Homo sapiens: one gene and its partners. The protein of the gene in region 3 interacts with the protein of the main gene of each other region in a pairwise test. Each region holds a gene or a part of one and is shown on either strand. Other genes may lie near its edges.

The links. The genes of interacting proteins can lie anywhere in the genome.
Region 1: the proteins of SPRED1 (region 3) and WWOX interact in binary tests that used the Homo sapiens proteins (3 or more experiments, as listed by UniProt).
Region 2: the proteins of SPRED1 (region 3) and SSX2 interact in binary tests that used the Homo sapiens proteins (3 or more experiments, as listed by UniProt).
Region 4: the proteins of SPRED1 (region 3) and CEP43 interact in binary tests that used the Homo sapiens proteins (3 or more experiments, as listed by UniProt).

Annotation. Positions count from the first base shown.
Region 1 is NC_000016.10:78,109,654-78,113,153, reverse strand, and holds part of WWOX (WW domain-containing oxidoreductase), read right to left. Parts: intron 3,377-3,500; coding exon 3,319-3,376; intron 1-3,318. UniProt on the Homo sapiens protein: Putative oxidoreductase. Acts as a tumor suppressor and plays a role in apoptosis. Required for normal bone development. May function synergistically with p53/TP53 to control genotoxic stress-induced cell death.
Region 2 is NC_000023.11:52,700,679-52,704,178, reverse strand, and holds part of SSX2 (protein SSX2), read left to right. Parts: intron 1-1,548; coding exon 1,549-1,598; intron 1,599-3,500.
Region 3 is NC_000015.10:38,255,836-38,259,335, forward strand, and holds part of SPRED1 (sprouty-related, EVH1 domain-containing protein 1), read left to right. Parts: intron 1-3,500. UniProt on the Homo sapiens protein: Tyrosine kinase substrate that inhibits growth-factor-mediated activation of MAP kinase. Negatively regulates hematopoiesis of bone marrow.
Region 4 is NC_000006.12:167,019,897-167,023,396, reverse strand, and holds part of CEP43 (centrosomal protein 43), read right to left. Parts: intron 989-3,500; coding exon 762-988; intron 1-761. UniProt on the Homo sapiens protein: Required for anchoring microtubules to the centrosomes. Required for ciliation.

The DNA of each region.
Region 1 (3,500 bases), on a different chromosome or scaffold from region 3:
ATGCTGCTGGTCCAGGAACCATGCCTGAGAACTGCTGCTCTTGGTTGATTAATACCCATTTCAGGGAGTAACTTTCCAAGCGTGAATGCAAAGGCAAAGACTGCACAGGAGAAAATTGATTTGACTACATAAAAAATTTAAGAAATTCAGTCAGGTGTGGTCGCTCATGCCTGTAATATGAATGCTTTGGGAAGTCAAGGCAGGAGGATCGCTGAAGGCCAGAAGTTCAAGACCAGCCTGGGCAACATACTGAGCCTCAGTCTCTACAAAAAAAAAGTCTTTAAAAATTAGCTGGGCATGGCAGCATGAGCCTGTAGTCCCAGCTCCTCAGAAGGCTGAGGCAGGAGGATCACTTGAGTCCAGGAGGTTGAGGCTGCAGCGAGCTGTGACTGTGTCACTGCACCTCAGCCCTGGATAAGAAGAGCAAGACCCAGTATAAAAAAAAAAAAAGAAAGAAAACTTGGAAAAAAAAAAAAAACATTTTCAACATTTTCAACATACAACCAATGCGTTGATACCCTTAATTAGTTGAGGAAAAAAAACTTTCACAAGTTAGGCAAAAAGCCTTTTAACAAATAATAGGCACTCCCACCTATCCAACTGCTAGACAGCCCCGTCTTCCTGGGGCTGCCTATGGTGGCCTGGGAGACTTCTCTCAAGCAAGCTTTGGCCTATTTGCTCTCAATATCAGTTTTGCACCAAAAGTTCACCAGGTTTGCTCAAAAAACACACATGTCATTTGAACTTGTTACTGTAACTACATTACCAGCAAGCTACTATTACACAAACTGATAACATGGGAGGTGAAAAATAGTGTCAGTGGTATCTATGAAAATGTGGTCGAATGCTTTGGAGAGCCTCAAAGACAAGCAGCTAAAAAAAAAGTTTTGGTTCAATCAACTACAGTGAAAATGCTAGAAAAATACCATAAAACTCCCAAATGATGTAGCAATCAGATTCTTTGAAAATACTGTGTTTGCTCAACCTTAAAGTTGTAGGGTCCAGCCCTACTGGGCTTAGCGGGTGTTCTCCCCGTGTGCAGAGACGAGGGATTGTAATAAATAAAGACACAAGACAAAGAGATAAGGAGAAAACAGCTGGGCCCAGGGTGGGGGCCACTACCACCAAGATGTGGAGACCGGTAGTGGCCCCGAACGGCTGGGCACGCTGATATTTATCGCATACAAGACAAGGGGGCAGGGTAAGGAGGGTGAATCTTCTAAGTGATTGACAAGGTGAAGCAAGTCACGTGATTACAGGATAGAGGGCCCTTCCCTTTTAGGTAGCCGAAGCAGAGAGAGAAGGCAGCATACGTCAGCATTTTCTTTTCTGCCCTTAAAAGAAAGATCAAAGACTTTAAAACTTTCACCATTTCTTCTACCACTATCTACTACGTACTTCAAAGAGGAACCAGGAGTACGGGAGGAGCATGAAAGCGGACAACGTACGTGACCATTGAAACACAGCACCACAGGGAGGGGTTTAGGCCTCCGGATGACTGTGGGCAGGCCTGGATAATACCCAGCCTTCCACAAGAAGCTGGTGGAGCAGAGTGTTCCCTGACTCCTCCAAGGAAAGGAGACTCCCTTTCGCGGTCTGCTAAGTAACGGGTGTCTTCCCAGACACTGGCGTTACCGCTTGACCAAGGAGCCCTCAAGCAGCCCTTATGCGGGTGTGACAGAAGGCTCACCTCTTGCCTTCTAGGTCACTTCTCACAATGTCCCTTTAGCACCTGAGCCTATACATGCCAGTTATTCCTAGGTTATGTTAGTAATGCCACAAAGAGTAATATTAAAAGCTAATGATTAATAGTGTTTATAGTAATGATTGATAATTGTCCATGATCATCTCCATATCTAACCTGTATTATGACTATTCTTATTCTAACTACTTTCTTTATTATACTGAAACAGTTTGTGCCTTCAGTCTCTTGCCTCGGCACCTAGGTACTCTTTCGCCCACATAAAATGAAAGTAGAAATTGTAGATGTTATGTTACAGGCATGCTTAGGGGAAGGAAGACCACACTGGATCCATGCAAGTGGACTCACACTCAGAGGAGGGCTGGCCCGACCCCTAAATGTTGGTGTACTTGAATCAAATACTGAAACGTTTATGTTACATTCATAACTTTAAAAAAAAAAAAAATTCCTGCTCAAATCAACTTCTATTAACCAACCAATCCTAATCCTGTCAAAGACTATTCAAGCTTCTAATTTAAATGTTGACAGTTGTGAAACATTAATTCTCCTCTTAACTACGGTGGTCAAGAGTACAGTCCCTGGAGCAGGTGCTGGGCTCAAAGCCTGGCTGTGCTACTTCTTTGCTGTGGGATCCTTAACAAGTCACTTACCCCCTCAAGTCTGTGTCACTGGCAGTAAGCTAGGGATAATAACAATACTACCTCTCAGGGCACTGTGGGGATCCAATGACCTAATGCTACAGATACAAGATGATTAGAATCAGGCCTGGCTCATGCTATATGTTGGACAGGTGGTTACTATTGCTGCGTGATACCGGAATTTATCCTAAAGACAGAATCAGAGAGGTGAAAAAGTCTTACAGATAAGGATGCTCAATACATTATTTATAATTATAGGTTCTCTATAACAGGAATTTAGCATTAATGTCCAATAGGCAATTTGATAAATTATAGTATATCTGTACAAAATAATAACTCTAGAGCTGCTAAATAGCATCTTTTTGAAAAATAGATATGGATACAAGAAAATGCTCATAATATATTACATGGAAAAAGCAGGTTACTAAACAGTCCACACAGTGCATTCCCTCTTTTTTTTTTTTTTTTTTTTTTGAGAAGGAGTCTCATTCTGTCACCCAGGCTGGAGTGCAGTGGCGCGATCTCAGCTCACTGCAACTTCCGCCTCCTGGGTTCAAGTGATTCTCCCGCCTTACCCTCCCGAGTAGCAGGGACCACAGGCACGTGCCACCACACCCAGCTCATTTTTATATTTTTAGTAGAGACGGAGTTTCACCATGTTGGCCAGAATGGTCTCGATCTCTTGACCTCAGGATCCACCCACTTCGACCTCCCAAAGTGCTGGGATTACAGGCATGAGCCACCATGCCTGGCCTCCCTACTTTTTTTTTTTAAGGATGCGTGTGCGGGGAAAATAGAAGAATAAATCTAGCGATGTTAAAAGTTCCAGCGATGTTAAAAGTAGTCACTTCTGCTAAGATTACAGATACACACTGTTATACTTTGTATTTTTCTACAGTTACTATGTATTACTTTTATAATTAAAAATTCCTATTAAAAAGCAAAACAGCTGAGAGTGGTTTCTTTGCAGACACTTACTCAACAAAAAACACTTGTCCGTTCTCATCAGTTTCTTGTTCCCATCCGTATGGCAAATCTGAAACACAAGAAAGACAGGTCTACAGGTGCCAGGGAGAAGTAAAGACCATCCCTGGGTCAGGAAGGGAAGGAGCCCTCCCAGCCCCGCCCCCAAGCCTGTCCCTCCCACCCAGCAGTTGTCA
Region 2 (3,500 bases), on a different chromosome or scaffold from region 3:
GAGTGCGGCACAGACAGCTTCAGCTGTGACTTGTTGATAGTGTGTTTTGTTTGTTTTTGTTTTTGAGATGGAGTTTCACTCTTCTCGGCCAGGGTAGAGTGCAATAAGGCAATCTCAGCTCACTCCAACTTTCACCTCCTGGGTTCAAGTGATTCTCCTGCCTCAGCCTCCCGAGTAGCTGGGGTTACAGGCACGTGCCCCCACACCCAGCTCATTTTTTAATTTATGGTAGAGACGGGGTTTCACCATGTTGGCCAGGCTGGTCTCAAACTTCCTGACCTCAGGTGATCCACCCGCCTCAGCCTTCCAAAGTGCTGGGATTACAACTGTGAGCTACCACGCCCGGCCTATTTGCAGTTTTTCTAATATTCTGAATAAATAAATCAGACCTAACATAGCTGTGGGGTAATGTTGAGATCCGACTGGACTCAATATTATTCCCCATACTTTTCTGTGTGTTTGAAATATTTCTTTTTTAAACGACATGTTGTTCTTCCTAAGCACCGTTAATGAATCAAAGGACTGCTAAAAAAATGCTACAAGTGAAAAAAAAAAAAGAAAGAAAGAAAGAAAGTGTTAAAACTGTAGATCCGCCAAAAACTTCCAGAGTTTGTTTCATTAACAGCATGTAGGTATTGGATAGGTATCTTAGGAGTGAGGGTGATGAACACATTATGTAATAAAGATCGCTGTTTCTCTGTATTGGTTTATCAAAACCAAATAGTCTTCTCATTCCCAAAGAACCCTGATTCTCCGTAATGAGCTTGGAAGAGAGTTTGAAGGAGTGATCCCTTATCCAACACACAGAGAGCTTTCCCACTTGTCAGAGAGCAGAGATAACATAGGGTGAAAAAAAGATAGGTTCTTGGGTAGAGAGCTTTGTACATTTCAGGAATATAAAGGGGACATATGTATTTACTTGCTCTTCTACTCTGACAACATAATTATAAGACAAGGTCAGAATGTCCAAACCGTCTCCAATAGACCTATTACTCGCCAACTAAACAGGCCAGATTCTACAATCTCCCGCAATCACTATAAGAGACCTGAAAAGCCAGTGCTTGAGTATCTGCCAAGTTTTGACAGTAAAGGAGTGTCTTTATACTGAAAATATTTCAGAGCCACTGGACCAAATCATCCATGGTTCATCACACATTTAACAGCTTAATTCACATACCATAAGATTCACCCATTTGAAGTGTACAATGATTTTCAGTTGTTGCACATCTTGAGTGGATACAGTTCAGATTCCTAACCAATCAATTTAATTATTTGGGAAAAAGTAAAAGATATGTAATGGAATAAGATGAGACTGTGATGGGGTGTAGTCCCCATGTGATAAACCATGAGATGGAAAATTCTGAATTGATGCCACAGATAAATGCACCAACCATGACTAAACATAATTCAGAAGCAAATCTGAAATAACTCCTCAACAATGAGTGGACTCATAACCCTCTGCTGCAGAATACCCTGATGCGACAGAAGTCTCTCTAGAGTTTGGAAACCTTTACCAACAAAGAAAAATTCTGATGTATTCTCTTTCAGTTGAACGTCCTCAGATGACTTTCGGCAGGCTCCAGGGAATCTCCCCGAAGGTGAGTGTCTCTCAGATCTAAAGGACCAGAGAACCTTTGTCCCTCCACGGATGCGAACACTGGTAAGAGTGGGAGAATATCAAAAATGCCCTCACTGCCTTCTTCTCCCCATGTCTATCACAACACCTGATGTCGCACCGACGGCTTGATAGTACCAACAGTTGCGATTGTTAATACTTCTTTTGTTTTCATAGTGATGCCAGATACTATTTCAAGCAGTTCACATGGATTAATTTATTTAATCCTTAAGAAGACATTGTTTCTATTATCTCCAAATAATAATGAGTCACACACTTCAGTTTTCATCCATATGAAAGCCATGTGACTTGACACAAATCTTCTAAGTTCTCTGAGCTCCAGATTCCTGGTCCATGAAATGGAAGTAAAGAATTATAGTTCATGTTTTAGATCATAGTTATCAGCAACATAATAATAAAATGAGGCTATCGTGGTACAGAGATGTTAAAGAATTTTCCTGGGGCGCAGTGGCAGTGGTAGTCTAATCCAGAGCTCCAAGCCATTTAAAGCTCATTCACATTTGCATTTGTCTATGAAGTTCAGATGTTGCTCACTAGGGCTTCACCCCATAGGGCCTGCTGGTGCTTCCAATGAGACACCCACTCTCTCAACAGGAAGGACCATCTGGTCTCTGCTGTGTTGCTGGGGCCACTTGCATGGCTTAGGAATCACTTTGATTGTTGGCCCCTCCCTACTGTGAGCTCCTTGAGTGCCTTGTCTGCACCTGGGGCATCTGGGAAGGCCCAGTCCCAGCCCAGGGGATCCCTCGGAGGCCCCTGAATGAGTGATCCCACAAGTGCAGATTCAACTCTGGTTTGGAGGGTAAAGGGATCTGGGAGTTGGGTTGCCAGTGTGGAGACTGAATTCAAAGAAGGATTGTGAAAGGTATTAATTGTTATTATTACGACATTTAAACAGTGTTTACAAGCTCAGAGAGGACTTTACTGTAGGCTATTTGACATGTATGGTTCACTATTTCATAAGGGAGGAAGCTGAATGAAAAGTAGCTTAAGAGCCGGGCGCGGTGGCTCACGACTGTAATCCCAGCACTTTGGGAGGCTGAGGCGGGCAGATCACGAGGTCAAGAGATCGAGACCATCCTGCCCAACATGGTGAAACCGTGTCTCTACTAAAAATACAAAACTTAGCGGGGCGTGGTAGTGCCTGCCTGTAGTCCCAGATACTCTGGAGGCTAAGGAAGGAGAATCGCTTAAACGCGGGAGTCGGATGTTGCCTTGAGCCGATATCATGCCACGGCACCCCAGTCTGGCGACACAGTGAGACTCCGTCTCAAAAAAAAAAAAAAAAAAAAAAAAAAAGAAAGAAAGAAAGAAAAAAAAAAGTAGCTTAAGATTGTTGGTCAGTGACACATCCCAATGCAACCAGAATTGGTATGGGTACCACCTCACTGAATTCCACATTGAATGTCGGTGCCCCAGTAGGGTAGTATGTCATATCTGGTACTGCTTTGTTTGCTGCCTAGATTAATTTCGGCAAACCATTTCTTTCCCTCTCCCTTCCCTGTATTCATCTCCCCACACCATCTTTCCCAGCAGTGTTTTGTCGCCTCCCTATGTTTTTACATTTACTCTCCCAGCAGCTGTCTAGAAGCTTATATGGGATCCCTTGTATTTTACAGAACCTCTTCCCTTTGTAGACCTTGTGAATTCTTAGAATGCTACTCTTCTCCAAATCATCTGTATATCACACTCTCAATTACATGGAGATTTTTGCTGTTTGCAAGAATGTCAGTCCTAAAAGAGTGGGAAGATAAGCATTCTATCCCTGGAAACCATATTCACTTAGGCCATTCCTTTCCCTTCTAACCTCCCCTCCCAGGTTTCTCCTAATTTAGGCCTGTGTAACTCTCCCAGTGTTGTTGAG
Region 3 (3,500 bases):
CAGTAGGGACTATTTTTAACATTCTTTAGTTTCTTTTTCACCTGATTTCAACCTTCAAGAAAAGTGAAAATCACCAGTTTCCTGGGAAACCATTAACCCTTTCTAGATAGCCATTGTGGTAAAATCCAGTAGGGCCTCATTCTGAAATCCTCGAGTACATGCTTATTATTTGAAATTAAAGTTTTATGTAGAGAAATGGATAACTCCTAGGCTGACTGTGAGAATATATTTAATCAAGAATTAGTGGGGGATCTGTTATGTGTAGGGCTTTGCTTTAATGCCAAACCAAGTAAGGAAGAAATAAATTAGAATAAAGCATTTCTTAGATTGTTTCACATTTATGTTTAAAAATCTTACTTTTCAAAAATAGTAAACATACTCTAGAGCAAAAGAATTTGTGTTATAAATAGTAGAGGAAATAGCCACATACATGTTTGTTTTGTAGGTAATTTGCACAGAGACTGTTTAATACTCCAGTCAAATGTTTCCGATAGATATAACTGTACCATATTTTACATTATTGAATTAGCCTTCTAAATAGAGTTTTAAACATTTAAAGGCATATTATATAATACTTAAGAGTCTTTGTCCTTTGGTATTGAGTGTATATAGCACTGCATGTCCTTTTGTCAATTTGGCCAAAACATTTGGAGAAGTGAAGTAGCTGAAATAATAAGCATTTGGCTTATTAGGTTCACGTTAGCCAGAAACACTTCCTGTGTCAGTATTAGGCTTTCTAATAGCAAGTTGGGATTATATTAGATTTTGGAATTAGGTTAACTAGAATTAGACCATGTATGATAAACGTACTATGTTGTAATCTGAGTTTGAACTGTTTTTCCGTAAATAGAAAGCAAATTTTTATGGTTATATCATTTAGTGCCTCATAAAAAATATACCCAGTGGTGAGTTATTTTTGATAAGTGTAAATAAACATATGTTCACCCCATACATTTTACGTATGTATATGTATGTACACACACACACATATATATATATATAAAATTGGAAAACATTCTAGAAATAAATGGAAGCACTGGAAAGCTGTGTAATATTAAGCCATCTAATGTTTGTTTATATAGATGTGGTGTATACATAATATAAAAATTTGCTTATTATTCAGTTGGCCTGTGTAAAAATCAGCTAAATGACTGCATACTTGCTTCAACTTAATTTCCCTCTGCTTTCTCACTTAAAACTTTATGATCCTGAATTATATATTTTAAACACATTATGATACCATACCTAGAATTCCTCTCCTTACAAACTTTTGTAAATTTGTCATTTTTCCCCAAAAGACCTTCTCTCTTCCCCTCTTTCAACACTCTGTCCCTCTATGTTGCCTCTGTACTTCGTACATATGTATATTAGTTTTAAAATCATATAATATTGTGATTATTTACTTATTTCTATGACCGCTATTCTGTAATTCCCTACTTTTGTTTGTATGCCTAGCACAGTGCTTGATGGCAAATGCTCTACAAATGTGGTTGAATTAATGGAGCCTCATTACCTCATTTTTTTGTTTTCTCTGAATTTATGCATTTGAGATCATTAGCTGTATTAGAAAAAAAGGCCGAAAAAGAGTATGGGAAAAGTAAATTATTACCCGTTTAAGAAGGCTTACCTTTTTTTTTAAGAAAAGACAAAAATTGGCCTCATTTTTGACATGTTTTGTTTCTGCAAGTTTGAGAAATAACTTAGATCAGGCTTAAAAACTGTCCTAAAGTGCTGTTGGGATGTTTGGATGTGCTTGGCCTCTGAGTTATGTGGTGTATCTGAAGACCCGTGTTATATCCACAAGAAGGTAGACATTTGTGTGTCTGTCTTTTTTGGCATAGGAAGCTCAAAATTTAGGAATATGTATCTCCAGCTGTTTATCAGTTTTAAGTCTTTAAATTGCTCTCCCTTTCCCCCATGGTTCCACATTAGTGCCAAGGGTGAGGAACTGACTAGGGATAAAGAAGTGAAATTGATCAGGAAAGGGTAAACAGCAGCAGATTCCGTGATTTTATACTGCAGCTGTTGGTGACTGAGAACTGCCTAAGGGGAAAGTGTAACAATTTAGCCTTTTCTCTGGTGTTGTATAACTTGAACTTGACTAGTCTTACCCAGTTTGGGGAAATGATTGGTAAAGACAAGCCTGCTTTTCTTCTCCATCTTTCAGTAGGAACAGGAACGACATTAAAAATGCCAATTTAAAAAATGCTTCACCCCATGTAAGAGTAGTAGTTTATTTCAGATAATGTACAAAATGATCTCTAAAGTGAGTAATAATTTATTTGCAATTCTGCCATTAAATAACAGCTGCTAAAATTTTGGTCTACATGGAAACCTTTCTTATGATGTTGGTGATGAAACATATTCATTTATTAGATTTTTACTGTATGCCAAGCACTGTTATAAATGCTTTATGAAAGCATTATGTAGTTTATATATATACATGTGTTTCTTCTCAGTGGAATGGAATTGCACAGTGGGTACAATTGTAGCTTAATGTGAATATTTTCTTAAGTCGTTAAATATTCTAGAATATAATTTTTAGTGGCTACATTATGTTCAGTGTATGATATACATTAGTTGTAATCAGTCTCCTATTGTTGGATATTTTAGTTATTTTTAAACAATGTTGCATACCATCCTGAGTTCTGTCTCCATCCAGATCTCTTACTTTTCCCTTGAGATAGTCTAAGAATGGAGTTAAAAGAGAGGAAAATATTTAATTTTATTCTTTCTGTTAAATTGCCCTCTAGAAAAGAAGTATTTAGTATATGAGAGTGCTTAAACTTTGAAATGTCTGTACAGTTGTCTGAATTTTTCTTTGCCAATTTTGAAGGTAGAAAATGAAGTCTTATTTTTTAAATGCTTTATGGTAAAATAAAATTGATTTAAAAACTTATTAGGTTGTTTTGCGGTAACTAGAATGTTTTTAAATGCTATATTATAAATAGAATTTAAGTGCTCATGTAAAAGCCATTTGTACATCATTTATTTAACTCTTACCATCTTCTGTGCAGTATGGTATAGTCTAAAGAACACTGGACTTGAAATTGGGAGATGGATTTCTTTTGTAGCTATTTTTAATTTATTCTCTAATCCTGGGCTCTGTAGGCCTCAGTTTGCTGATTTATAAATTAAAGAATTTGGACTAAGCATCATATGTGCCCTTCCTTTGTTGATGGTGTATGATTTAGACTTTGTTAATTTTATTATATTGTTATTTTTGACATACTTAAACAAAAGACTTAAGAGTAGAAGTGGTAGGAAGATTAGGTAAAAGCATGCATTTTGAACAATTAAGATACAAAATTTGGAAACAATTGGTATATTAATAGTCTTTTAAGACTTACTTTGGGCTTAATAGCCATGTATCTTTGATGACACAAAATTTTGTACTACTCAATTTTGTTTTTTATGTATTTATTTATTTTAAAGAGGCAGGGTCTTGCAGTGTTGTCCAGGCTGGAGGGCAGTACAGTGGTATGATCATAGCTCACTGC
Region 4 (3,500 bases), on a different chromosome or scaffold from region 3:
TGCCACTCTGTATATTACTTTTCTCTAGCACTTACTGGCAAATCCTTTTCCATCATTAACGGCCTCCTAACTGGAAACTCTAAGACCAACCTTCCCCAGCAACCTCAGGATCCTTCTGTAATGTACGCCAGATCAAGATCCTCAGGGCTTCCAGTCTCAAAGAAAAGCCGTCCAGCTCCTCATCTCTGAGTCCACCTCATCCGATCCCCATCTTGCTCTCTCTGCTACCCCCAACTCGCCTCCCTGCTGTCTGTTTCCTCTCCCCAAAGCTCCATCAACCCACGGCAACTCCCTTACCTCCTCTAGCTCTTTGCTCACTGGGCACCTCCAAGTGAGGCCCCCTCCAATTTGGACAGCTGACATGCACCTGCCCTGACCACACACTCGGGCTCCCATCACTGCTCTGCTCTCATCACCCCACACACTGCAGCATAACCCTCATTGCCTGACTCTGTCACCAGAGCATGAGCTTCCTGAGGGCAGGAGTCTTCCCTCTTCTATCATTGCTGCACCCCACCCTGGAACAGCCCTGGCAAGTGGCTGACACTCAATCTACACTTACTTGTTGGAATAAATCATGTCTAGGTTTTTCTAAAATCTGGGATTGTTTTACAACATGAAAGGCATTAACAACGCATAGTCAGATTTATGGATCCAATAATTATAAACCTTCCATAGTTCATTATTTTTTAACTATAAAATGAAAACATTTATCTTATTTTTAAACCCCTAGTCTCATAGCTCAAAAACCATTTACTCACAAACCGTAAGTTTTCTCTGGCTTAGGAATGGGATCATCAAAGAAAGAATCTCCTTCCATATCATCTTCATCTGGACAAAGGCCAGCTTTGTCTTTGCCATCTAAAGTTCTGTTGCTTAGAAAAGATCCAATTTTTGTTTCATGGGACAGTAAGTGAAGGCTGCTTTTGCTCTTGGGTTCTGACAAGGAGACACTTGTATCACTCTGATTGGCCTCATCATTGGCCTTCTAGAAAGAGAGGGAAAGAGAAAAGGCCTCCTTGGTGAGATAAAACTTTAAGATATTTTCAATAATAAAAGAAGTCTCATGAGCATAATCAAACCTGTGTGTGTGCAACCTTTGTGTGTGTGTGTGTGTGTGTGTGTGTGTGTGTGTGTTGGGGCAGCTCTCAGCAGCGTGAACTGCAGAGCAATGCCACAATTCATCACTCCATCCCCAGGATTCCTAACATGGCAAACTTTCAAAGGGGGAAAAATATTAGAGAAATATATTAATACCATTCCTTTCCTCTTTCCCTAAATGGAAATACCTTTAGTATACCTATCCCATTTATAAACACTTTCCCATTGAGAAACAATTTCCCATCTCCTCTTCCATATGTCATTGCTTCATAAGTTATCTTAAATTAATACATTTTCAACTTGAAATCAGGAGAGATCATTATTATTAAAGGAGAAAAGAAAGATTATTTCATATGAATGAACCAAGCATTAAAGTAGTCATCAGTAAAAATAGCAATTTTCTATCCAGTGCTAAACACAACAGGCATCAAGGTGAAAGGCGCTGCCTTCAACCACTCATATTTCTAACATAAACCTTTGCTAATCAAAGTAATTATCTCAATTCTAACTTCCAGGGTAACTTCCTAACCTATACCTCATTTTGATGTCCATGGACATATATACGTGTGTGTGTGTGTGTATTTCTCTATGTATATTAACATCAATGTTATAAAAAAATTCTGAATCATCCTTATCCATGCCCTTGGATACAGAGTGATGTTACCACTTTTCTTTTTTGTTTTCAGGGAGTCCTAACCTTCACAGCCGACTTTCACTCCATTCTTGGTCAGATTTCTTTCTGCCCTTAGACGGGTCTATGTTAATAATAATAATGAAAACAAAAAATAATGCTAGTAATAATAAAAGCAGCTGACATTTATGGAGAACATTCAAATGCTTCACCTTATCTCACTGAATCTTGAAAATGGCCCTAGGATCTGGAGATGGCTTTCTATCTGTGGATATAAATCAGGAAACACAGAGACAGACATTGATGTCACTTGTCAAAGTCTCCAGAGAGTTAAGTGGTCAGGTCAATATCAAAGTCAAAGCCTGCTTCCAGAGGTTAACTCAATATTTATGCTATTAAGCTAAATTATAATGAATTTGTGGGCTTTATGGGTTAAAAATGGCAATTTCCCAAAATTCAGCCTTGCATACTAAAGAGAGCAGTATTGTGTAAAATACCCGTGGAATAATAGAAAAAGCACTCAACTGAAACAAGGAATCTGGAATGTAGTCCAAAATTATTAACTCCATTTTTTTTTCTTTTTTTTTTTTTTCTTTTTTAAGAAACAGGCTCTCACTATGTCATCCAGGCTGGTCTTAAAACTCCTGGGCTCAAGCAGTCCTCCTTGCCTCAGTCTCCCAAGTAGCTGGGTTTATGGGATTACAAGCACAAACTACACCCAGTCGTATAATCTTTTTTTTTTTTTTTTTTTTTTTTGAGACAGAGTCTCGCTCTGTCACTCAGGCTGGAGTGCAGTGGGGCAATCTGGGCTAACTGCAACCTCCGCCTCCCAGATTCAAGCGATTCTCCTGCCTCAGCCTCCTGAGTAGCTGGGATTTCAGGCGCGTGCCACCACGCTTGGCTAATTTTTGTATTTTTAGTAGAAACAGGGTTTCAACATGTTGGCCACGCTGGTCTCGAACTTCTGACCTCAAGTGATCCACCCGCCTCGGCCTCCCAAAGTGCTGGGATTACAGGCGTGAGCCGTGAGCCACCATACATGGCCCGTGTAATCTTAAGTAAATTAATTTCCTAGGCATGAGTTTCCTCAAGAATTGAACTAGATTCATATTTTTCAGATCAAATTATATCTAGGAAGGGATGGATGGCTGAGAAAGAATTAAAGAGTAGTAACTACTGAAGCATGGTGACCAAAGTCTGGGTTAGACATTACCGAACAAGACGCTCCTGAAGGATGGTTTCACTTTTCATATGGGTACAGACAGAATGCATTATGCATGTCTTATGATATACGTTTACATCTTTACACCAGGTAGAGGTCTTGACTAGTTGACAGTAGGCAAGATATATGCTGTGCAAATTTTATTGCCTTCTAGAGAGCTACACATTCCATGTTATTAATATAAATTAATGATTATAAAGAGATGTCTGAAAAAATAAATAGCAAGTTATAATTTTAGACAACATATTTTCAAAGGGATGGAAACTTTCAAAAATTTCCTAACAACTTTCTTGACATTTTCCTGGTATTATCAAATATAGAAAAATATTATGTAATTCACAGCAGTTGTAATTTCTGATTTTTACACTGTTTTAATAATGGATTTATGTCTTTTTAAAAGAATATGCATTTGGAAATAAATACCCTGATGTGATATTTAAACATATGTACAATGACACAGCCTGTGGCCACGACAGATTCTCTCCTTCTAAACACTCATGAGAAAGTGCCAAAGAATAACTGGCATGACAGAAACTGAAAAATGTA